5 separate regions of the Homo sapiens genome follow, and all the other regions are linked to region 4. The links come from fine-mapping of genetic effects on gene expression. A gene starts in region 4. Each other region holds a variant in brackets. All regions are shown on one strand. Distances are from middle to middle. Region 1 has its middle 2.9 kb from the start of LINC02217. Region 2 overlaps BASP1 (brain abundant membrane attached signal protein 1). Region 3 overlaps LINC02217 (long intergenic non-protein coding RNA 2217). Region 4 holds the start of BASP1 (brain abundant membrane attached signal protein 1). Region 5 overlaps BASP1 (brain abundant membrane attached signal protein 1).

What was found. PIP is the estimated chance that this variant, and not a neighbour inherited with it, causes the effect.
Region 1: its variant is fine-mapped to the expression of BASP1 in whole blood (TOPMed, PIP above 0.99).
Region 2: its variant is fine-mapped to the expression of BASP1 in whole blood (TOPMed, PIP above 0.99).
Region 3: its variant is fine-mapped to the expression of BASP1 in whole blood (TOPMed, PIP 0.99).
Region 5: its variant is fine-mapped to the expression of BASP1 in whole blood (INTERVAL, PIP above 0.99).

The regions. Positions count from the first base shown.
Region 1 is chr5:17,398,584-17,403,689 of GRCh38, reverse strand. No RefSeq gene overlaps it. Among named protein-coding and RNA genes, the nearest start is that of LINC02217, 2.9 kb to the left of the region's middle. RefSeq lists enhancers at 1,613-2,258, 2,259-2,904. The variant C/T (reference allele first, on the strand shown) is at 2,577.
Region 2 is chr5:17,253,668-17,258,760 of GRCh38, reverse strand. All of the region lies in intron 1 of BASP1 (brain abundant membrane attached signal protein 1), which reads right to left. Among named protein-coding and RNA genes, the nearest start is that of BASP1, 39 kb to the right of the region's middle. The variant ATGCAT/T (reference allele first, on the strand shown) is at 3,010.
Region 3 is chr5:17,433,696-17,438,801 of GRCh38, reverse strand. All of the region lies in intron 1 of LINC02217 (long intergenic non-protein coding RNA 2217), which reads right to left. Among named protein-coding and RNA genes, the nearest start is that of LINC02218, 7.8 kb to the left of the region's middle. The variant G/C (reference allele first, on the strand shown) is at 2,276.
Region 4 is chr5:17,214,677-17,219,778 of GRCh38, reverse strand. BASP1 (brain abundant membrane attached signal protein 1) reads right to left here and starts at 2,148. Exons shown (of 2, transcript NM_006317.5): 1 at 1,969-2,148. BASP1-AS1 (BASP1 antisense RNA 1) reads left to right here and starts at 2,357. Exons shown (of 3, transcript NR_027253.1): 1 at 2,357-3,702. RefSeq lists an enhancer at 248-1,028 and silencers at 1,063-1,382, 1,873-2,352.
Region 5 is chr5:17,236,630-17,241,735 of GRCh38, reverse strand. All of the region lies in intron 1 of BASP1 (brain abundant membrane attached signal protein 1), which reads right to left. It also overlaps the pseudogene RNU6-1003P. Among named protein-coding and RNA genes, the nearest start is that of BASP1, 22 kb to the right of the region's middle. The variant G/A (reference allele first, on the strand shown) is at 2,289.

The DNA.
Region 1 (5,106 bases), 180 kb before region 4:
TTAAATTTTTTCTACTGTACACTTTATACTGGTTTGCTAATACCGTTAGATATTTTTATTCACCCCTAGATAGTGGTTGCATTTTATCCCCTACTGAAGAAGAACACTGCATGGTTACTACACAACAGTATGGACAGTGTTTGAAAGTTGAATGGAAGATGATCAAATGAGGTTAAGCTTTCAAGTTGGGAAAAAGGGAGAAAGTGGGAAAAAGTAAGTATTCCTATAAATTTTTTAAGTCAACAAACATAATTATTTTTGTTTCTTAAGGGCTGTTCTGAAAAATGTGAGGAAACTCACCACTTGGTTAAATTTCAGTCATCAACTGAATTATTTAAAGCAAGAAATCTGAGTTTGATTCTGCTTTCATAAAAGAAGCAAACCAGCAAAAGAGGCCTTTTAGAATTACTATATTACAGTAGTTTAAAATAGAAATGCAGCTAGTGCATTTAACACTTAGTCTTCTTCTCCTTATCTTAGTTCTTTAAAATCATCACCAGTGCCCTGGTGGTTGAAAAATTGAGCTGTAACTCAATCTGTGCCATTAATGGCAGAATCCTGGGTCAGTCTATTAACCTATTTTGATCTCAGTTTCCTCATTTGTAAAATGAGAAGAGAGTGGATGAGTGATTTTTCAAATGTTTTGTTAATTGACAGAACTCCCTTCTTTTTCCCAAAGGAAATGTTACCAGGAATCCTGAGACAGGAAACCTGAAAGGCAGGATGGAGAAGATTCAGCTTCCCTCTCTCCCTCCAGGCACACCCCAGAATTCTGGGAAAGAGAATTGGAAAACTGGCTCAGAGGGTCCTATTTTGAGTCTTTCACAGCAATCCTGGCAGGTCCTGGAGTGGACCTGCAAGAAAGGATGAAACGAGGGCAGGTATGCTAAGCTGATAGCCCACGTTAGCTCAAAGGGAAAAGAACACATTTTTCCTAGTTGTAAGTCTGAAAGTGGAATGAGAGATTAGTCCTGAGATAACCTTGGAAGAATCTGTCCCCACCTCCAGGGTTACAATGTTGACTCTTTGAATGGTATTTCTGCCCTGCGTCTTAACTTTCCTGGAAACCCCTCTGCCTGCTCTGATCCCTGAGCCCAATTTAACCTCTTCCTCCTCATCTTCCTCTTAACCCACCATATGGCTCCCAACACCCACATTTTGGCCCACGATGCTTTCTCTCTGTGACCCACCCGAGCGGGCAGCCCTGATTCAGGAAACAGGGGTTATAGTTACTGGAAAACAGATGCCTCAATGGCAATAGGACAAACTTTGGAACAAAGGAGCTCACGGGTCCTTTACGACCTAAAATCTCTAAATCTCTTGCATTGTCTTGCTCAATTGAAATAAGCCGGGGCTTTGTGTTTCCTCTCACCCGCATTCAAAGAGCTGGTGCTGATGACACTTGATTTTCCTCACTCTTCGTTCCTAAGGCAAAGTGAGAAAATGCTTTCAAAACTAGCTCTAAATTTGGCTCATTTTCGCTCTTTGGAAAAATAGAGAGAGAGAGAAAGAGAAAGTCTCACTTTCCTACTCCTACAACTTATTTTAAAATTTGCAGAGGAATTCCCACAGAACTCCTGCAGTTTAAAAAAAAAAAAATCTATTAGCCTGTAAAATGTCCACAAATTCTTCGGCACCCAAAGCCTAGCCGGCAGCTGGTGCCCCACGGCTATTATTATCCCACCCTGGGATTCACTTGTAAAAGCCTCACACACAGTAAACAAATGTCAGAGAGCAAACACAAAGCTCTCTCTAAACTCAAGACATTCTAATTCTTATCTGTTCACTGTCGAAATGTTTACCTGTCCCTTCAATGTTCTGGGCATCTCAGCTGTCAACTAAAAGGAAGAAGCTGAGCCAAAATTAACATAAGTAGAGAGTTGATTCGGGCCAAGCTTGAGGATTGCCGCCCTGGAGAGTATTCAAGTGGATTTTTAAAGGAAAAAGAAGAAAGCAGTTCCTGAGTTGTTTACCAATAAATTATGTTAAAATAACATAAGGTGTTCTTTGTATTGCAAATTCCAGCAACAAGAAGATAATGTGTTAGGCAGTTAATCTGGAACAAAATGCCTTTAAAACATTACCCCCAGGCAGGGGTGCAGGGTGGGGAGGGAATGATTGGAGTTCCATACTTCTGTCTCTCTGGGCCTGATAAATTTCTCATACCTCATGTAGCTCAGAACGCTCTATTTTTCTTTCCTCACAGACATGTGCCTTAGAACCCTGTATTTTGAAAGTGAAAAGACAAATAATGCATTCCAGGGATCACTGAGGTGATCTCCACCCAGCCCCACTGCAGTGGCCTTGATCTTTTTCAACCGACCCTCCTCCTTCAAAACCATCTCCTGGGGCCCAGCAATCTCTCTTCTGAAGGGGCTAGAGATGCAATGGCTTGAAACTGCAAGATCCCGGACTTCCCGTCCTAATGACATTTTGTTGGTGTCCATTTAGTTAATACACAAACAGGTAGGGAGGCAGTTAGTTGTTCTGCTTGCTGGGATGATGAAATAACAGACTCTTACTCCCAACTTCCCCTTGCTAAAGTGCTAGCTCACCGCAGGACTCATTCGGCGCCC[C/T]GTGGGAATGGAGAAAGGGATTACCTGTCAATAATACATGAGCACAGAAAGCCCTAGAAATGTGTGCCTAAGGCCAACTTGAAATGGGGAGTGGGGGAGAAAGAAGTCACTTGACGACACAGAAGGGAGAGAATAGCCCACATTCTGCTACAAATTTTCATTCAGCAAACACTTCTCTCCTCCTGGTCCTTCCACCTGGGTAAATTTCACATTAGCAATCCTGAAACAGCAAATACAGCTCTTTCTAGAAAAAGGCAAGGGAGGGAAAAGAATAAAGTGAATCCGGAGGGCATTGATCGTGTGTGAGTGAGTGAGTGTATGTGTGAATATGAGAGTGTATGTTTGTGTGTATGAGTGTGAGTGTATATGTGAGTTGGCGTATGTCTCTGTCAGCGTGTGATTGTGTGTATGTGTATCTGTGTGTGTGTGTGTTCATCTTTATTTTTACTCCTTTTATTCTTCAACATTGTTGTCTCACAAACTGCCCCCAGCAATGATTTTTGTTCTGTGAAATCTAATTTTCAATCTTTTCATCTCAAGGGTGAGGCGCAGCATAACTTCCACATCAATTTCCCAATATTTCAAGGGATACGTGACTCTACGTAACACTTTTCCAGATCGCTGAATTTAACCGTTTAACTCAAACTCTCACTTTCAAATGAAACACGTCATATATTATAAACTTATTTTCCTTCCTTAGTAAAATACACAAACATGATTCAAAGTTTTCTTGATAGCTGAAGATCATAATTCTGAGCCACTATTTCTTTATATAATATTTCTTTATATAATATTTCTTTATATAATATTTATATATTATATAATATTTATATATTATATATTATATATTGTATATAATATTATATAATATAATATTTCTGTAATATAATCAGCCCTTCGTGGGCCATGACGTGTAGCATGGTGACTTTCTACACAGCAAAATAGTTCCGGTTTTCTTCTCCTCAGACCTGACACCCCCTCTTCCCTGTCACTGCCTGCTAGTCACTGATAGCCTAAGAAAATTACAGTCTCCATCTGCAGCCAATCAGCCACCACACTTGTACCTTTCCACTAGGCTAGGCTGCTTTTATTTTATTTTGACTTATTTTATTCTGTTTCTGCTCCCCTTCTCCAAGCTTCCTTCCCTTCACTTCTGGTCTTTCAGCTCTCAGGCTGGCTCTAGCTGAAGGCTGTCTTGTTTGGTTCTGCTCTGATAAGTGACAATTTCACCACCTTGAGGTATTTAGGTCCCAGTTCTCATTTTTTCAGTTTTTGTTTTGTTGGGGAGTTGTTTAATCCTAGTTCACTTCACTGCTGGAAATAGTTTCTTCGCCTCCTTCGATACCTTCCAATTTAAGGTTTGATGCCATTCTGGGAATGGGAGATGGCCCCAAAACTGCCTCCGATGATCCAGGCTCTGCAGTGATTTCCAAATAGCAGATAAGGAATTGACAGTTGTAGAAATTGGAGCTGGCAGCACTTCCTTAAAAATACATTAACTCCAAAAAGAGAGGAAATAGGCATTTTGAGGGACGAACTCAAATTTTTGCTCTAAAAATGAAAATCCTAATATATAGGATAGATAGGAATTGGATTCAGCAAACTATATGCTATACAAACCTGAAAGTTGCCTCTAATTTCCCAACTGGTAATCTCAATTCTATAATCATGGGCACAGAGTCCATTCCCCAGTGGTCTCAACTCACTTTGGGAGCAGACCGTGTTTACCTGCCACAGTTAGAGAACAATCTTCCCAGTCTTGCATTTCTTCCTTTAGAGAAGGAAGAGCTGAGGTGCAGCCACCTGTTGCACCTTCTGCAACCCTCAAGCTACCAAAATTGTACTTGACAACAGTTTGTTGAAAAATGGACAGAAGTGCCAAATATCCATTTGTCTATTCAAATGTACAAGCCACCTTCCTAGTGAAATGTTGGTTGCAATTGCATTTGAATTAAACTTTAGAGTAGGGGGGAAAGAGACGTGTACATTTCCACTTTTCAGTTCCTTTAAATGCTAAATAGACATCATGATATTCAGTCAGTCCTGCTTCCTGAGGTTATTACCAGGCATGCAAAAGAAATACACTGAACTCTTTTAAGGAAGTGCAGAATATGTGATATTGAAGTATGACAATATAATACCTTAATTAAGGAGTTAATTTTCTATTTCCTCTAATGAATATAATCAACCGCTACCTCTTTGTTCTCCAGTCCATCACTTAATTAATCAGTTCCTCCAAGCAAAGTGAACATATTCTGGTCCCTGAATAAAGTGGAGAAATATCTGCCATAGTCCGTCAGCCTCCAGGCACAGCTGTGTGGAGTTATCCACATCCACAGCCTCCCCTTGCTGGGGCACCGGTAGTCCATGGTTAATGCAGCCCTGGATGACTAGGGGAGGGGCTTAAGCTTGATTCAGACGGGAAATGCACAGATGGTTTTCCCACTTATCTGTCAAAGAAAAACCACATTTCATTCTCCCCAGAAGGTAATGCTGCTTTGTAAGAAAAAAAGTGTGGCTCATTTCGTTG
Region 2 (5,093 bases), 39 kb before region 4:
TGTGACATTTAAAAACATAACAGAGGGTATTTGTCCCCAGCCATGGAATTCCAGAGACGATGCATTTCATCCCCAGACTTGGGGATGAAACACAAACTAGAATTCAATACCAACTGCCCCTTACTCATGATGTGACTCAGAACAAAGTCACTTCAACCTCTTATTTGCCAATGTTTCTGTATAACGTGTCTAATATTGGGAGTGAAATTTATGTAAACAGGAATCATCTGAGAAGCTTGTTAAAAATATAGGTGGGGGGAGTGTTATCTCTTTCCCAAGATAATTAATTAGTGGGCTCAGCATGAGTCCCAAGAATCTATTTTCTACCAAGTTGACCAGGTAACACCAAAACAAGTAGTGCAGGGGCTGCATGTTGAGAAATACATATACATAGCATTTGCAGTGACTTTGAAAACTAATGCTTTTGCATCATCTGTAAAACCTGAAACATGAAAATCCCAAAGACCAATGTGATTACTGCTGGTTACAAAGCTAAAAACAAGCACAGCAGAAAACCTAGCCAGGTCTAACCGAGAAGTGAGTGTGCACAGAACAGGTGGTGTCGGCCCCAGTGAAATCTCATCAGCTATAGAGATATACTGCCTTTGAGTTCTCTTTGCTACCAGAGCCACAAATAAATTAGAATGACCCAGACCTACTCTCCCTATCAGAATTTCCCCAGCAGCCAACTGCCGTCTTGTTAGTACCACAGTTTAGCCAGAGGAGGCAAGATATAAGCAGCCTGTATGGAAAAGCAAGAGCAGTGTGAGCAATTTCAAGAACCCCTGATGATAACACCAGGCCCTGGGCAGTCCCCTTGCTACCCCAGATGCTCCTGTCACTGGCAGGGGAAACACAGGAACGGTGCTGTTTGGCTCTGTAAGCTCCTTTCTTACACAACATGAAGCTTCCATTGTTCAAGGTTTATAGCCTGCCCTGTGAGACAATACTGTTTTCAGAAGCCTCCATTTTATGTAATTAAAGTTCACATTTCAGAAAACAGGTTTTCCTCTTTTAGTTCAAGCGGAACTTTGATGGCTTGCCAATAAGTTTTGGATCTCAATCCAATATACTCTGTGAAAAAAAGCACATAGGCAAGGGGATGAGAGACCACGTTCAGCTATGTGACCTGGGGCAGGGAGTCAGCCTCAGTGAACTCAACCTTTGCCTACAGAAGAAAATAGAAGGGGAGGTGGTTGTTAGCATTAAATGGAATATTTGCAGTAAAGGATATAGTTCAGCTCACTACACACAGTAGGTATTCAGTACATTTTACCTTCATTTACCTAAAACCATTTCCCAGCTCCATTCATGTAGAATAGAGAATAACTCTGAATTTCAAGATTAAGTAAAAGATCGGTGGGACCAATTACTGTATTCAACACAGGTAAACAATAGGAATTGATTCAATTATAACAAAAAGAATCACTCTTTTTGTTTTGTTTTTTAATCACTCTTTTTAATATTTAAATTCTAGGTTATAGCCTGCAATATCTGTTATATAATCTGTAGATTCTAAGAGCAAGTAAATGTTAATAAATCTCACAATGATAAAAACAGCCTCCTCACACTGGTAAAAGATGAATGCCATCCAGGAATACAAATGCCTGCATCCAGTATATACAGAAAAATGTCTCCAAGAAACTATCAAAAGGGAGAATGAGCCTCAAAATGTGTTCTAAGTCCCAGGAGAGACTCTATTTAAAGCAACCTCAGCAGATAGTGTCTTTTCCAAACTATTTCCATCTTACTGGCTTTAGGTTAGGTAGAAAGGTTGTGATAAAGGACCATGTGCCATATTCTGTTTCACCCAGTTCACTTGTTTGGGGTTCAGTTAAATTATCAGGAAACCTTTTCCCTAGAAATATTTTTTTTTCCACCCACAGCTATAAAATCCTATATTCAAACACAAAGTAAAGCAAAGAATTACTGGAGATCCTTCCTCAACCTTAGCATGCAATTAAGGCCACAAGTCAGCCACCAGTATTTTTTTCCTATAGGCTTAGAGAATCACTCTCCTTAGAAAAGCAGCCAATATCATTCATTGTACTTGATTTTTAAAACTTGAATTTTTAAACGATTTCTGTTCAACTTGGGATTCAGTCTCGTTACAGCCACTAAACTAGCTGCTGACATTAAACAAGCCACTGTTAACCTCCCAGGGTTGGTTATTTCATTTGTAATATAAATGACTAGAATTGTATCCTTTATGTCTATAATTTTTAGTTTTTGCACAAACGTGCAGTAATAATGTATACACACAACTAGATTCTATTGAGCACTCAAATTCACTTATTTATTTGAGAAATGACACAAACATCCAGGCACTGCACTAGAAGCAGGGCACCCAAAGGTCGACCCTGACTGCCCATAGATCTTTCCATTCTACATCATAGGAAAACTATGACTCTTAAAAGGGTCAAAGGTAGCAGAGCCGATGCTAGCCTGTGAGCTAAATTCTGACAGTGTGGCCTTAAACAATTTTAACAAATAAACTACAACAGAAAAATCAATCTATTCCACAAGAGTTAGAGTAGAAAAGAACTAGGCAGGCTCCTAAATCTTTCCTAATGTAGTTTTCTGGATTCACCTTGGAATGTCCTTCAAATTGTTTGTGCTCTGAGATATGGGCCAAGGTGGAAGCTGCAAAAAAGTGGGGTGCAGGCAAGTCATGCAGATACCAGACAAATGAAGAGCATGTGAAACCTCAGATGTCAACAAGAGGACACCTCAAGATTCCCTCAGCTGGGTGCAAATTCCTTCTGATTCAAAGACCAAGTTTCTACCCTACACACTCAGCCCATGCCTCCTTCATGTGAGTATCTTGAGTTCCCTATCTAGAAACCTACTCTGGTGTGCAGGACGTTGCTAAATGAAATATACTGGTGACAGCATTAGTCTTAAGAAATCATGAAATTGCAACAGATATGTTTGAGGAAAGGCATAGTGTCTTAATAGGAGTCAAATGCAAACATTGTCAACTTGAAACAGAAGGTGGAAGTGAAAGAG[ATGCAT/T]TTAACATGAGCAAATTTACCTGATTTATACAAGCTGGCAAAACTCTGCCTCAGTGATGATTCTGAATGTTCTATTATTTACGTCCACAGTCAGCCTTGCATCTCTACAACTTCCTACCCTGTAACACCGTCAAGAGTGGTGAGTGATGTGTTACACGTTGCAACACTTCCTGATCGACACCAGGCATCCAACGTGGGGCAAGAGGTTTCAAAATACATAGTGGCTTCAGATTAGCACAGGTACCACAGATTCCACATGATTCTCAGATGTTAAGGAAAATACAGAATAAAAGCTTGGAAAGTAATAGTAAACTATGACTCATGAGTCTGTTTTAATGGGAAAAAAAAACCTAGTGAACTTATTATAGTTTTAAGTGGGTAGATTACTATGTCATTAATGTGAAATGGAAGGACCTAAAATAGATTAAAAATTGAACCAAAGGGAAGGAGGATTTTTGTTAGAACAGCATGTCCTAGCTCTTGTGAATCTACACCTGTCCCTCACATCTCTAAGATTTCTTCTAGAAAATAAATGGATTGAGTCACTTCATCTCCAAAATTCCAGGTATCTCAAACACTAATACAATAAATACTAACATAGAAAGATTTGCAGGTCCAAATCTTTTACATGTTTGGAACAATGGGTCCAAATAAATAAATAAATAAAATGTTGCCAGTTAGAATAAATGATCATGTAACATGAAGAGGGGAAAATATCAAAGCTACACCTTCGTCAGTTCGAAGAAAGCAGAGGGTGAATTGAAATTATCTACGACCACCTGCAAAGAGGGAACATTTACCAAGATACCCGTCAGTCTCAGAAAATTCTTACTTCCTTTGGTGTCAACTGAAATCGTCTGTCCAATGTGGGATCTCTTGCAATAAGGATATCCAACATAGATGGTGCTTTAAGATTTATTCTCTCTGTTTTTATATTGGGCCTCTTTGCCTCTTTTTTCTTATTCAAACCTAAAATGTCTTCGGATCAGTCCTAAGCATGGTACATACTAAATTTCAGTATTCTAGATGACAGGATTCATACTTTGTAATGATTCAAAGGTGGGATCTGCAAATCTTCTCCAATTAAAATCTGATAAATAAATGTGATTATTCAAAAACTGTATTGAGCACCATGATGCACTGCAGATCCGTTGCAAACTGAATGCTTTTATCAACTTACCTCCCTTTACTTATTCACACAGACTTATTTCATTGGTAACATAGCTGTGAAAGTGACAGAACTGCATTTCCAAAAAAAACTACACTAGAATCCGAACCATCATCTAAGTCAGGCAAAAGCATCTTCCTTTACTTGGAATTATGGAATCTTGATTGTGATAGGTGATCCTAGTAGATTCATAGCACTTCCCAAACTCAGTCTACAAGCCCACCCTTGTAACACTGCCATGCATGAGTGCAGCTTGTCTGGAAAGGAACAGGCACTTTAAAAATGAACACAAAAGATGAATTACAATTATGTTAGCAGATATTTGTTTTTTCAATTACAAATAAATGAGAACTAACTGCTAAAAAGATAATCTGCTTATGACTATTTGCAAATTAATTATTCTCACTTGTCATAATCAACACTAATTTACCTTCAAGATGCTAAAGTTTTCCTGGTTTGTTCTCTGAGAAAAAATATATATATATTTTTTCCCTTAAAGATCTAGTCTAGTTCAAATTACCAAAAACTCAAGTATAGTACAAATGGAGATTTGTAATCTGAACACATCCTAAAGCTATCAACATGCAAGTTCTACTTATAATGCTTTTCCAAAATAGCTACGTACATCTTTTGCATAAAACAAAAAAAAACACTAGATACAGTAATTAATGTTGAAGGATTTCTCTGTTCCATAAAGCCTCCTGAATGTGTCGGTGGTCTTCTCATCACTGGTGAGTAAAACACACGTAAATTTGTTAATAAAGCAAGTATCCACGCTCTCCCTTGATCACAGATTCCAGTCTGTAACCCCAGGTATCGGGATGCACACAGATGGTGGTCAAAGCAACATAAACTTCTCAATTTGGTAATTGAGGGTCTTCATGATTAAGACAATAGTTCTGAAAGATATG
Region 3 (5,106 bases), 220 kb before region 4:
TCATTCTAGCTGCCAGCTTCTGGATTTGTCTGAAGTGTTGCAGATCCAAGTGGAATCAGCCTGGATTCCCATCGATTTCTTTCTTCAGGAACTGAGCTCGTGTTCCTCGTCTTCTTCCTCCTCTCAGACACTAGCAAGCCCTCTCGCTCTTCACTTGCACCATCCCCTCCCCACCCACAAGCCTGACTATGAAGTGGGATGTCACCCTACTTTTGCCTCCCCTTCCAGCACATATATTCATTTCATCTTAAACTGTTTCCGCTAATCACTTTGGGAAACAGAGATAATTAAAATCATAAGCATGAAGGGAAAAAAAATGAAATCATAAACATGAAGGGATTCAAAAACTCATCATTTGCTTGGAGCCATGCTTCCTGGAGCACTCTTTATTCTACATCTCAAATTATAACTAAGCACAGTTGGGATTCTGCCCCTCTTCCCCCACCCGTCTCAGCTAATTTATTTCTGGGTCCTATTCATTGATTGAATTAAATCCTACTGATGTCATGAAAACATCCAATATTTCCCTGCTCCAAGTGCTCAACTCACAACCCTGAGGCCCACCAGAAGAGGTCTCTGCTGACTCTACCAGCTATTTCCTCCGTAAGGCGGAAATCTCCAAGGTAAACAATCCACCAGCACCTGGTACCTCTCCTTACCCTGCCTCCTTGGAAGAAAGGGAAAAGAGAATTTAGCAGAAAAAAATTCCTCAAACGTAACAAAGTATCCCAGCCCCTTTGGACAGACCTATGTACCCATCTGTCATAAGTAAACCCATACAACAAGAATGTTGCCATGTCTTTAAAAATTCCTGAGGTCCAGCTCGGCGCAGTGGCTCAAGCCTATAATCCCAGCACTTTGGGAGGCTGAGGTGGGTGGATCACGAGGTCAGGAGATCGAGATCATCCTGGCCAACAAGGTGAAATCCCATCTCTACTAAAAATACAAAAATTAGCTGGATGTGGGGGAGCATGCCTGTAATCCCAGCTACTCAGGAGGCTGAGGCAGGAGAATCGCTTGTACCCGGGAGGCGGATGTTGCAGTGAGCCGAGATCAGGCCACTGAACTCCAGCCTGGCAACAGAACTACACTCCGTCTCAAAAATAAAAATAAAAATAAACAAAAATTCCTGAGTTCCTGGCTTTCAAACCCTCAATGTGTCTCCCCTATTCACTCAATTGAGTCATTATCTTTCCAAGCTAGACACATAGGAGCTATCTTTTCCTCCTTCCTTGTCCTTTCCATTTGATCTATGGTCATCACTTATTCCACTATTTATTTTATTGCCCCCTTTTATCCTCACTCTTTTTCTCTTGTATGTTGAATGTATCTGCTAGTTATATGTTAGTCACCCTTGAATTATCTTGAAAGAAACTGACAACAGCTGATGTTTCAAAGATTGACTTTCTATACCTGTTCTGTACTTTCATTTTAGTGATTATTTATTCTATTGTTTTAGCTTAATACTGTTGTTTTCGTACCTTAAATGACCTTGTTTCCCACAAAGCAGAGGGGTTTTTTTTTCGCATTTCCTATTTAACACTTTATAAACACAATAACCTAGGAAACAGGGTTACTTTATATCTACCTTCCGCTCCTCCAGCTTTGATTCCTGGCACACAGCATGAAAAGCAAGCAGAGGAACACAGCAGTTAGCAACTTTCACCACTTTTCATCTGTTCTTCCCCATTATTGAATCCATCTAAGGAAGACATCACTGTGACTGCCGGGAGATGTCAGGCCTCAGAAAGGAAGTTGAAAATTATGTAAGAAATGAGCCCAGTGACCTCCATTTCCTTGCCTCCTTGGTAAATAATTTGTGGTTTTCCGAAACTGGAGGCATATTTTAGAGTTCAAGCAAGGTTGGCAGTAAATTGTCCCAAGGATCATAAAAATGTGCACACAGGGTTTTGCAGACACCAAATCAAATAACTAAAGTGAAGTGAAACCAAAACAGAGCAGATGCGTGTATGCACAGGCATATCCCAGTCCCAGAACTGCAGACAGAGTTGTCTATCTTTTACTGTGTAACATAAATTCTAGAATATTAAACAGTTCAGTGGTAGGGAGGTTCAAGACACTCTTCCTTTAACCTCCAAAATATTTCTAACATCCAGTTTTGACTGTTTTTGTAAAAGAGGTAGCTCATGGGTTACAACTTCAAACTTCGGAACAATTCAGGGCTTAGCAAAGCCGTTGTCCACTGTTCTCATCTTCCGCATGTACTAAGAGAGGTTGGGAAGGGAAGTCAGAGCTGTTAGTAAAGAAACTATGA[G/C]GACAGAGGTGGGGCAAGCAAAGACACATGCTCTGGTGTTGGAAAAAAAGAAAAACAAACTTGAGGATCCTAGCAGGCTACAGATCATAGGGATTAAGAAGAAACTGGCTCAAACTTAAATACTAAGTGTTCACTTCTATTTCCCTTCTGAATAAAACGTTAAGTGATTGTGCCAATACCCTCCAGCAGTTAGCAGAACAGTCCCAACTAGAATACAGAACTCGAGACAGTAAGTTCACGGCTCAGTGGACATATACCCAGATCGCAAACCCTTACAAATAGGAATTTCTACATCCTCCCAATCCCTCCTGTGTTTTTCTCAAGGCACCTACCGGAAAGATCCTCTTCAAGAGAAACCAGGTCATAAGGCTTGTTCACTTCTCAGCTGCAACCATGCAATGGATCTTGAAATCACACAGAGGGAGAACCAGAGCCTCACAATGGCCTCCAGGGTGTCCACCATCTGCTGAGCTTACACCTCCACACGTTCTGCCACCCTCACCTCTCAGGCCCCTCCAGCTGAACCCCTTTTTCACTCTGTCCCAACCAGATGGGGCTCATCGCCACCTCTGTGTCTTTGCACTTTCTACTTCTCCCCCAGAGATCTTCTCACCCTGTTCTCTCTTCTCCCATAAGTCTCTGCTCAGACATTACCTTTTCAGGGAGGCCTCTCTGACCATATCATCTAAATGGGTAAATGACAACTCTTGAACACTCTTGTCCCCCACCTGGCTCTGCTTTTGCATATGGTACTTACCCCCTTCTTTTTTTTTTTTCTTTGAGATGGAGTCTCGTTCTGTCACCCAGCCTGGAATGCAGTGGAGCGATCTCACCTCCCTGCAGCTTTCACCTCCTGATTTCAAGCGATTCTCATGCCTCAGCCTCCCAAGCAGCTGAGATTACAGGCATGTACCACCACAACTGGCTAATTTTTGTATTTTTAGTAGAGACGAGGTTTCACCATGTTGGCCAGGCTGGCCTTGAACTCCTGACCTCAAGTAATCCCTCCACTTCAGCTTCCCAAAGTGTTGGAATTACAGGCATGAGCCTCTATGCCCAGCCCTCACCTTCTTATATTCTGTATATTTGTTTTCTCCCTCACCAGAGTGTGAGCTCTGTGAAGCCAAGAGCTTTCCTCCCTTTTCTTCACTGCTGAATCCCAGCATAAAAAATTATGTCTTGTACACAGTAGGATTCAACAAGGAGATCTATGTGTTATTTATATGTTTTTATATATCTCATTTACATATATGTTGTTTACATATATATCTTACTAACATATATCTCATATAGGTATATACACAAATGGTCCCTAACTTATGATGGTTTCAACTTTACAATGGTGTGAAAGTGAAACACATTCAGTAGAACCTGTACTTCAAGTAGCCATACAACCATTCTGTTTTTCATGTTCAGTACAGAATTCAATAAACTACATGAAATATTCAATACTTTATGATGAAATAGACTTTGTGATAGATGATTTTCTCCAACTGTAAACTGATGTAAGTATTCCACATTTACATGTTAAGTGTCTAAGCACATTTATAGTGGACTAGGCTAAGCTATGGTTTTTGAAAGGTTAGGTGCATTCAATGCATTTTTGACTTGGAATATTTTCAGCTTACCATGGGTTTATCAGAACATAACACATCATAAGTTGAGGAGCATCTTTCTCTCTATCTTTCTCTCTCTCTCTCTATATATATATATACATATATATACACATACATATACATATATATACACACACATATATATGCTCTGTATATATATAGAGAGAGAAAGAGACAACTCTGTTCTCTGAGTGTGTGTGTGTGTGTGTGTGTGTGTGTGTATGCACAGGCACAGAAGAGACAGAAAGAGAAATCAAATCATCCATGGCTAAATTTGAGAATAGATTTGTGTAATTATCTTTATTTTCCCAATCAAAAAGTTAATGAAGAAATGGAACTGACAAAAACAAGTACCAAGCAATATTATACTTCATTAAGGTTTTTCTCTTTTGATTTAATGACTAGACTTATTATAACTTCTTACGAAATAAATTATTGAGCAGAACACAGTTTTGTTGGGGACCAGGAATTTTCAGACACTCGGAACTCTATCCTAGTCTATCCTCTGGGTCTAATGGAAAGTTACTTGCTCAATGTTTATGTGAGCCAGGAACCAGCAGAAGTGGGTGGATAACTTCAGTCAAAACACAGGGAAATTTTAGAGGATGATGGCTGTCAGAAGTCCAGTTGCATATCTGGAAGCCATCTCTTCCTTTATTCATGACTTTAAGGACAAGTGGACATTTTTGAAAAGGTACATGGTGGTTTCTTTATACTTTGGCAAAGAGTCACTGTGGACTCAGGGTGTCCCAGACACAGGGAGCAGAGTGAGTGGCAGAGGAATCTAAGGGTGGTTCGTGATGACTGTTTGATCCAGCAGACACTTTTTAGACGTCTAAAAGGTTGGCATTTTATGGCCTATTTAGTCATTTAAATCCTCATGGGCCTTTGACCAGCAGAAGTGGGTGAATAACTACAGAGCAGTTCAACCTGAACTTCCAATTACAAAAAAGAAAAAGTGAGGGGGCAGGGGTTTGCTGGTGAATGACAGTCTCCTCCCTGAAAAATAAAACAAAATTAAAGTTAAAATAAAACAAAGTTAAAGACTACTGAAAACTAATCTAATAATATTGGCATTTCTTCCCCAAAAATATCAGCTTTAAAGAACTGAATAGAGAGTGGTGGAGAGACTGAGCTTTCCTTTGTTATCGTTCTGTTTTGATCATTTCACTGCTCCTACTTTATTTTAATAATGCGGCCAAAGACTGATTCAAC
Region 4 (5,102 bases):
AGAAAACAGAAAGGGTTAGGATCCCGACAAGGTAATCGTTTTCTTCTCTCCGGTTTTTGTAGGCCATCTTGTTCGAATAAACGCCAAGATGTCTTAATTTTCCCCAGGTGGTGTCACTGGAGGCAACGCCCACTGACAGTTTTGAGGCCACCTTCCCTTAATCAAATGACCAAAAAAGATCTGTCAAACGGTTAATTGATGCAAATTAAGAAAGCCACCCTCACTGCAGTAAGATATGTTACAGGAAAAAGAACAATGAACAGTACTAGAAAGGAAAATAACAGTGTGCGGGTACAAAATATTTAATCCACAATTTGCCTTCATCCTCATCAAGGCAAATCTTAATTTTGGTCAATTGAAATCAGCAAGAAAGCAAAAGATGAGAGACAGCCTGGAAAAGAAGAAACACACACACAGGCGGGAAAAACTGTCATTGGTGTCCAAGGGTTTCCCGCAACATTTAGGGCAAACGCCTTTGTTCCTCGGCTCGGGAGGGGAGTGGGTGGCTGGATGATGGAGATGGGATGGGGCTGCCGGGCCCTCCACACCCTGCTCTCCGGCGCATGCGCGAGGCCAAGACAAAGGAATAGGTAATTACAGTCCCGATTCATTCATTTTGCCTGCAGTATACTGGGGGTCTGTTGGCCCGGGCTGTAATCCCGGGAGGTGGGGGTGGGGGGTCGGTCCACAACCCTATAGCAGAAGGCCATTTCGACGCTAGTGTTGGGTTTTAGCCCGCCCCACAGTGCGAGTGGCCGCGGGGGAGACAGAGGTGTTGTCAACCTGTACAAGGTCCTAAAAAATGCACCCATGTGTGCTGTGCTAATTTCAGCAGAGTGAGAATTACATGGGCAAGGGCTGTCCACCGAGTTCGTTTCAAGGCGGAAATGTCTCTGGGGACGCAGATAAGGAGCCTGGCCAAGCGTTCGATGAATATTCATGAAAAGAATGCGGTTTGCAGCCGCGCATTGTGCGTGCGATCGGATCCAGGATTCCGCAATTTTTATTTTTCTGGAAATGGAGGGGGGACGGGGGCGGGGGGAGCAGGAACCGGGCGCCGGGTTTCAGCTTTAGCGCTTTGGGCAAAAGCTGCTCAACCCCAACCCTACGCTCCCAGCGGGGCTGAGCCCAGTTAGGGCCGCGCGCTGTCAGGTTCAAGCCCACACCCCCCGGGCCCGGGCCGGGGCCGGGACCCAGGGCGGAGGCGCCTGGCGCATTCTTGGAACCAAAGGCTCGAAAAAACAAACTGCTCCGAGGCAGCCCACGGGTTCGTAGGAAGGCAATTCCGCCACTGACGAGGCTGGGGCTCCGATCTGCTCGGGAGGTGCTTCTGAGTGCACGTCGCCGTGTGAACCTCGTATTCCTTGGCCCCAGAACCAAGATCCAGGAGTCCCATGGGTCGAGAAAACCCGTTTGCCAAAGCAAAAAGCCACCCACTTCCTTCTGATCGGGCCAGATTCCCCATCTTCTTTCTCCCCGGACTCCCGCCCCACCCCACCCCCACCCTCCATCTTTGGCTGCTGCGCCCCTCGCCCCGAGCGCTTTCTCCCAGGCTGGTAAGGGCTCCGATGACGGAAGCGCTCCCTTCAGCCCACAGAACCGTCTCCCCGGGACTCAACGCACTGAGGGGGTTTCGCATTCGGCAATTCCTCCCGTCACCCGCAGCTCCTCTCCCCGACAGCCCCCTCCCCCCAGCTCCGTTTACCAACCTCGCCGCCCCCCTCACCCCTCCACCATGCGAGCGGCTGAAGCCTCCCACTTCTGGGCCCCCCATCACCCGGGATCCCCGAAGTGCGACGGAGCCCTCACAGAGGGACCCCAGGCCCTTGCCGTCCAATCCGGGCCCACATCCCTGCTGCCCGCTGCATGAAGGGAGAGCCCGGGGGCTGCGGGGCGGGGCGCGGCGCGGTGGGGGACGGAGGCCCCCGGGTCCGCGGCGGCGCGGGGCCACCGGGCGCGCCTCCTTACCGGCTCTGGGTGCCTATGCAGCCCCTGAGTTAGCGCGGTGCCGCCGAGAGGCCGGGGTCGCTGGCGTCGTCTGGCTGGTGCCTGGCCGCTGGCGGAGGCTCTCTCCCGGCTCGACGGCGGAGCCCGGAGCGAGGAGCCAGTTGGAGCGCTGCCGCCGCCGTCGTCGCCGCTGCCGCTACTGCCGCCGCCGCCGCCGCTGCAGCCTCTGCATTTCTCGCGCTCGCTCCCCCTCCCCTTCCTGCCCAGTGCCCTCCCCCCGCGCGTCCGCCCGCCCAGCCTCCCTCCTCCCGCGCTCCCCGCCCGCCTCTCTCCCCTCCCTCCAGCCCGGCGCCCCGCCCGTCTCCCCTCCACCCCCTCCAGCTCCATCTCCCCACCCCCTGCACTCCCTCTGCTCCCCTCCCCTCCTCCGGCGCAGACCCTCCCCTCTCCCCTCCAGCCTGGACACGCCCGCCTCCCCTTGACTCCCCCCAGCTCTGGGCCCCCACCTCCCCTCCCCTCCAGCACAGTCACCCCCATTTCTCTCCTATCCGCCATCCTGGTTCCTCCCTTCCCCCCACCTCCCAACTCTGTGCCCCGCCAACGTTTCCTAAATGCCCTCTATTCAGATCCCCCCTCCGCCTCCCCTCTCCTCTCCTCCATTCCTGCGTCCCCCTTCCCCCGCCGCGCCGCCTGGGCTGTCCGTGGACTTCTCCCACTCTCTCACTCTCTCACTCACTCTCTCTCTCTCTCTCTCTCTCTCACTCTCTCTCTCTCTCTCCCCCTCATTTATTTGGAACCGTTGGATAAGAAGTGCTCGGGCTCTCGCTCAGACTTAGGGAGCTGCCTCGAGGTGATGAATGACACCCCCTGGCACCAGCTACCCTTCTCAGACCCCAGTCCAGCCCGCTCCCGACGTCGACTACGATTCCGCTACCTCGGCTGGCAGCGAGGTTGGGGTGAGCCCCAGCTGCAGGCGCGTCTGGGCTGCGCCGCTGCAAACGAGTTGCGCACCTTGGGCGGCTCCGCACCTGCACCCGCACCCGCGGGGCTCAGCCCCGAAGGCTGCAGCTTCGGGGGAGGCGCGGTCGCCGAGGTCCAGCTGGTGGGGCGAGAGACGTCGCCCCTCGGAGGATGCTCTCGGAACTTGGGAGAGGAAGGAGGGAAGAGAAGAGGGGAAAGGGGCCGTCGATGTTTTTGATGTCTGTGCTTTAATGGAGGCCACCAATATTGAGAAGACGGGGTTGGCCGAGGCAGCCCGCACGCTGCTGCTTGCGAGCGCTCGAGTCAAAGCTAGGGCCAACCGCGGCTTGTCCGGGTGCCCTAAGGGGGCGGACACTTGGTTTAGCACCGGGACACAGAATAGCCACCGGGGTAGGAAGATGCGTTCACTTTGCTTACCTGTTGGCAAGAGGGACATACAAAAATAACGTAACGTGACATCGTTGACAACGGTAGCTCTTTGATTACACAAAAGCCAATTTTACCTTCCCGCAAAAGCCAGTTGACGCCTTTGGAACTTTTATTTGCGGCATTTTGGCGCCCTCTGGCTGTGTTTGGATCGCTTTCATGCTCGCCTGCGTCCCAGCCAAGAAAAAATCGATGGAGCTGCAGGTTGTCCTCAGGATGGTTCTGCCCTCAGGACCTGGGCGTGAATTCAGGGACAGGGTGGCCCTCCAGAACCGGAGTGACAAACTGTAACCATACTTAGGGAGGCAGACGTCAAAGGCAAGTACATCTGTATTCAACTGGGTAAAGGTAAGTGCATTTTCACTTAACAGGAAAATTAACTTATCGTAACTTTAACGTACATATTTGAATTAAGCAAAGTGGCAATATTTACTCAACTGCACTAGCGATTTTGCAGTGGAAACACTTGACGACCCTACTGTACACATTTACAGGTCATAGGAGGCAGCACCAAATTAGATTAATGCATGCCAGCTGGAAATGTTCAAATTTAAACCAAAGGTAAGAAAAAAGCGGGAACTGTTTGTTTTTTCCTGTTTCTCTTTCTGCCATTTAAAGTGAAATAAAAAGTTAGTGTAGTAAAATACCAGGGAAGCAAATTACAAATGAGGTTGCTTCTAAAGCATTTTATTCTTTTGAATATTTATTTCCCTCACACCAGTACACCATCTATAAAGCTAAATGGAGGATGCAGGTTTTCCCACCTCCTTTTGGGGCCAGATATTTCTTTGTTGTGGAAGGCTGTCCTATGCACTGTAGGATGTCTGGCATTCATTGCTGGCCTCTACTAGCAGCCAGTACCACCCTCCACACACACCACCAGCACCAGCACCAGTTGTGACAACCAAAAATGTCCCCAGATATCGCCAAATGTCTCCTGGGAGGCAAAATCACTCCAGGCTGAAAACCACTGAGCTACATTTTCTTTCAACCTCTATGAGCAAGTCTCTAGGTTTTTACCCTATCGAATTAGATGAATATTTGCAATGTTCTGCTCAAGACATTTCCTGAGTTTGTTAGAGGAGCTGCCTACTTGTTCATTTAGCATTCAGGGTTTTTATCCTTGTGATCTTCCAGGCATGTAAATCATCTAAAAATTAGCAAATACATTTCCTCATTGTATTTGCAGTCTAAGCCTGTGGGTGTTATCTTCCTTCTCTATTCTCTTTTTCCAATTTTTCCAAAAAAAAAAGACAACATAAAAATTAATGTTCAGTACCTTCAGTGCTTCCAGCTAAATTTTCATGATGGAGAAAACAAACCTTTCAAAGGTGTGATTGGAATACAGATCACGGGTTACCATAGAAACCGGAGGCAAAAGCTTACACCAACAAGGAGAACTGCAGGTCTCCTTAATTTTGTCTTCCATCAGATTTAGTTGTTCTCTTAAAACATTTTTTTAAATTTTTTTAAAGGAGGGTGAGAATTCATTTTCAATGAGATAATGATGCAACTGACTGATAGTGCTATTAATCTTTAGAAGCTTTTACAGAATTTGTAGGTTTGCAGCAAATGGTTGCCAAAATGTTACCTCTCAATGTAACAATATTACTATATAAAATCCAATTTGGCGATGTTTTTAGTCTAATTTTTAGTTGTTCATCTAATATCATACTTTTTAATGTGTATGCTCTTTAAAACATTTTTTTAAACTGATGCTTAGGGAATAAATGAATAAACCTTTAAAG
Region 5 (5,106 bases), 22 kb before region 4:
GGACACCCATGGTGGCACACACTGGCTCACTCCAGTTCCTGCACAGATCTACGAAAGCTTCAGGGCCTCGTTCACTCCCAGCAAATGCAGCAAATATACAGCACTTAAAGAAGTCACAGGAACATTACTCAAACTGGAAGCAAAACAATAATTTTCTTGTTGACTGATATGCTTCCAGCAAATGAGAGACATGCAACATGAACTAAGATGTTCTGGGTTACACTGGCTACGTAACCTATTATTAATTTCTCTGTGCCACAGTTTCTTCATTTGTACAATGGGATAATAATAGAATCCACCCCACCTAGCTGCTGTATTTTAAAATGTCAATCTTTGGGCCAGGCGCAGTGGTTCACTCCTGTAATCACAACACTTTGGGAAGCTGAGGCAGGCAGATCACTTGAGGCCTGGAGTTCAAGACCATCCTGGCCAACATGGCGAAACCCCATCTCTACTAAAAACACAAAAATTAGCCGGGACTGGTGGTACATGTCTATAATCCCAGCTACTCAGGAGGCTGAGGCACAAGAATCGCTTGAATCTGAGAGGTGGGAGTTGCAGTGAGGCGAGATCACATCACTGCACTCCAGCCTGGGCAACAGAGCAAAACTCGGCCTCAAGAAAAAAAAAAAAAAAAGGAAAATGTCAATCTGTGTAAAGCTTAGAATGTGGCCTGCCTGGCACATGCTAAGCACTAGGCAAGCCTGTGCTCACCAGACTACAAGGTGTTATTTTGTAATGTTATAATTAAAAGAAACTATTAAATATTTTTAAATGCCATTGCAAAAATAAATCTTTGCCTAGTTTTGCCTTCTCTGTAACGATGGTTTTATGTTTCCAACTTAAGATCAAAATCACAAGAGTTTTATCTTTTTGTTTAGTAGGTACCCTAACAAAATACCTTAGATTGGGTAATTTATAAAGAATCAATACTTACTTCTCACAGTTCTGTAGGTTGGGAAGTCCAAGATCAAAGACAAAAGGGGACTAGGGCACTCCCTTCAACTTTTTTATTTTCCAAAATATATGGAATGCTTCACAAATTTGCACTGTCATTCTTGCATAGCAGCCATGTTCATCTCTATATGGTTCCAATTTTAGTATATGTGCTGATGAAGTGGGCACATTATTTCTCTTTTTTTAAAGAGTCAGAACCTCACTCTGTTTTTTATTTTATTATTTTATTTTACTTTATTTTATTGAGAGGAGTCTCACTCTGTCACCCAGGCTGAAGTGCAATGGCGCAATCTCAGCTCACTTCAACCTCTGCCTCCCAGATTCAAGTGATTCTCCTGCCTCAGCCTCCTGAGGAGCTGCAATCACAGGTGCCCGCCACCACGCCCAGCTAATTTTTGTATTTTTCAGTAGAGACAGGATTTCACCATGTTGGCCAGGCTGGTTTCAAACTTCTGACCTCAGGTGATCTGCCTACATCGGCCTACCAAAGTGCTGGGATTACAGGCGTGAGCCACCATGCCCGGCCAGAGCCTCACTCTGTTGCCCAGGATGGAGTGCAGTGGCATGATCACGGCTCACCCCAGCTTCAAACTCCTGGGCTCCAACCTGTTATTTATTTATTTATTTATTTATTTATTTATTTATCTTTATTTTTATTTTTTTCCCAACATGTTCTATAAGAGCACTAATCCCATTAGTGAAGGTGGAATAATCATGACCTCGACATTTCCCAAAAGGCCCCAGCTCTTACTTAATACCATCACACTGGGCATTAGGTTCCAACGTAGGAATTTTGGTGGAACACATATATTCAAACCATAGCATAGGGTCACTTTAAAATTACATCTCTATAAACAGTTCTGACTACAAAACTAGACAAATGAAAAGAAGCAACACCTCCATGCTACCAGGATAAAATTTCCAAAGACCTCATTACAACGGTTACCAGCAAAGAGGATTTTGAATTAGTACAAATTCACAGATTTTGGGGGTAATCTGGACTAAAAGAGTTCTACTTCACTAATTTAAGCCTGTGTTTTCAAATGAAGGGCAGTATCACATGCAAATACAACACATATATCCAAATTCCTAACTGGGTCCTAACTAGGATCAGCTTTACTTTGCAAGGCTCTAGAACAAAGATAACCAAAGTTGTATTACAAGATTGACAGCCTAGGGTATTTAAACACATCCTGACATTGACACCAAGACCCCAGGGTGAGTGTGGGGTCAACGGTTATAACCAAAAATATGGCCTTCTGTTCCATGTACTAACACACTGATCTGTTTTATTTAGATACTGAGTTTAGTAACCTCAAGAATTATTTACC[G/A]TAGTGAATAGGGAGAATTTCCACATTTGCCAAGGCTTTCTTTACGAAAGAGCTGGGCCGGGTGCAGTGGCTCACACCTGTAATCCCCGCACTTTGGGAGGCTGAGGCGGGCGGATCACAAGGTCAGGAGATCGAGACCATCCTGGCTAACATGGTGAAACCCCGTCTCTACTGAAAATACAAAAAATTAGCCAGATATGGTGGCGGGCACCTGTAGTCCCAGCTACTCAGGAGGCTGAGGCAGGAGAATCACTTGAACCCGGGAGGCAGAGGTTGCAGTGAGCTGAGATCATGCCACTGCACTCCAGCCTGGGTGACAGAGCGAGACTCCATCTCAAAAAAGAAAAAAAAAACAGCTGAAGACAGGATGTAAGATTTAGTCAAGTGTTGATTGATATCAAGTAAGGAAGGGAATTGTGTGGTTTTATTCCCCAGCTATTGGATGAACTAAACTGAGCTGACTTCTTACAGGGCTAACATGAGCAAGCACTGAACCAACTGTCCTTTCCTACCCGTTGATCAGACAGCTGGGAAGTCCTCTTGAAGGGAAAGATATTAAAATTTACTGAAGATAACCAAAGTTGAACGGAAAACAGATGATTAATAACTGACACTCAAAAAGAACATTCCACACATTCTTTGAAAACGCATGGAGTCATATCAATATTTAAATACAGTTCACTATGAGTCATGTTTAAATAGTCATATAATTGATGCCATACATCAGATATTTATCAGAAAGCATGAACCATTCGTGGTGCTGGAAAAGAAGATGACAAACTAGGGAAGAGATGGCAGGAGATGAAGGGGAAAAGTAGGTCAGGTTCAGATTTGGAATGAATGCGGTGATGCCTCAGTACATTCAGATGAGACTATCTGGGGATCAGGCGAGCATTTTTATCCCAGCTTCCATGGTTTCCACAGAGCACTTGCATCAAATGCTAGACACACAATACTAAAGGTTTCTCCTCACTGTTCTGAAGCTTGACGTTAGTCTCCATTAACACTTAACTACAGGTTTCATCAAATAGACGTCAAATTATTTCCAAGATAAACATCAGTAGGTGTTAGTTGAAAGGGAGGGGAGGGAGACTCAGCTTCTTCTGTTTCTTTTAAGTTTTATTTTGGTTTCGATAAAAAAAAAACTCAGATAGCCAGCTACGTAGAATGAATTGACTGAACAGTGACCACTTTTCCTGCATAAGACAGCTGAGATGAGGAAGACAACCAAATGAATCTGGAAGATTTCAAAGAAAATGTCCAGTGCTGTACTGAAAAAAAGAGGGTAGTTTAAATAGAAAAAATATATTAATAGAAAGGCACCGAGACAAACAAGTCACAAACCAAATAAAGTGTCAATAGGAGTGCCAATCAAACTGTGTATATCCATCCAAAAGAGAGAAGGCCACTGAGAACAAGAATCCCCCAAATAAGCATTTATGTAATTAAACAGCCTCTTAACATACGTTGTGTTTCATACATGCTTGGCGAACACTGAGAACTACAGGTAATCTTACTTTAGAAAGCAATGTCAGGGGGCCGGACACAGTGGCTCATGCCTGTAATCCCAGCACTTTGGGAGGCCGACGTGGGTGGATCACTTGAGGTGAGGAATTCAAGACAAGCCTGGCCAACATGGTGAAACACTGTCTCTACTAAAAATTCAAAAATTAGCCAGGCATGGTGGTGCATGCCTGTAGTCCCAGCTACTCGGGAGGTGGAGGCAGGAGATTCACTTGAACCCAAGAGGTGGAGGTTACAGTGAGCCACTGCACTACAGCCTGAGTGGCAGAGCGAGACTCCATCACGGAAAAAAAAAAAAAAAAGCAATGTCAGGGGACACTCACCTAGCAAGAACCAGATTATAGAACCTGTTTAAGCATCTTATTTCCAGAGACCTGTAATGTGTGCAAGCTCAACTATAGATTTAGGCAATTTTCTTTCTTCAAAATGAGCCATACCGAAGTCACTAATGTTAAGAACAGGTTCTCAGTCTGTGCTTTAATCCAGAAAAGCATTCTGGGTGAGCTCAGTGAGAGTTCTTTGGGTCCTTCATTAGATAGCCTTATCACCTTTCTTTCTTTTTTTTGTTTTGTTTTGTTTTGAGACGGAGTCTCGCTGTGTCGCCCAGGCTGGAGTGCAGTGGTGCGATCTCGGCTCACTGCAAGCTCCGCCTCCCGGGTTCACGCCATTCTCCTGCCTCAGCCTCCCAAGTAGCTGGGACTACAGGCGCCCACCACCACGCCCAGCTAATTTTTTGTATTTTTAGTAGAGACAGGTTTTCACGTGTTAGCCAGGATGGTCTGGATCTCCTAACCTCGTGATCCGCCCACCTCGACCTCCCAAAGTGCTGCAATTACAGGCGTGAGCCACCATGCCCAGCCACCTTATCACCTTTCTTTACAATACCTCCATCAAGAATTCTTGGTTGTTTACTACCCGGTGGGCTGGTAGATTTCATTAGCTTTCAAAGTATACAGAAAAATCTCAGCTTTTGAAAATTCCAGAGGAATGACACAGTAGCGCAAGCAGCTTTTTAAATATACAGAATTTTGTTTTATTTACATCGACTGCCTATTAAGAATTTTTTTCTGAAGATTAGAAGATACCAAGAAAAGTACTAAAAACATTTTTTTCCCTTAAGATATGGGTCTAGTTAAGAGTGCATTGCTCACCATATTTGAACCACTCAGCTTTCAGATATCAGGGTCTTCATATCTTTAATTCCTATTATTAAAATATTTCTGGGTTTTTATTTCCAACAATAACATGAAAAATAAACTCTTAGGACCTGCTCTCAGGATATATTCAGTAGCCA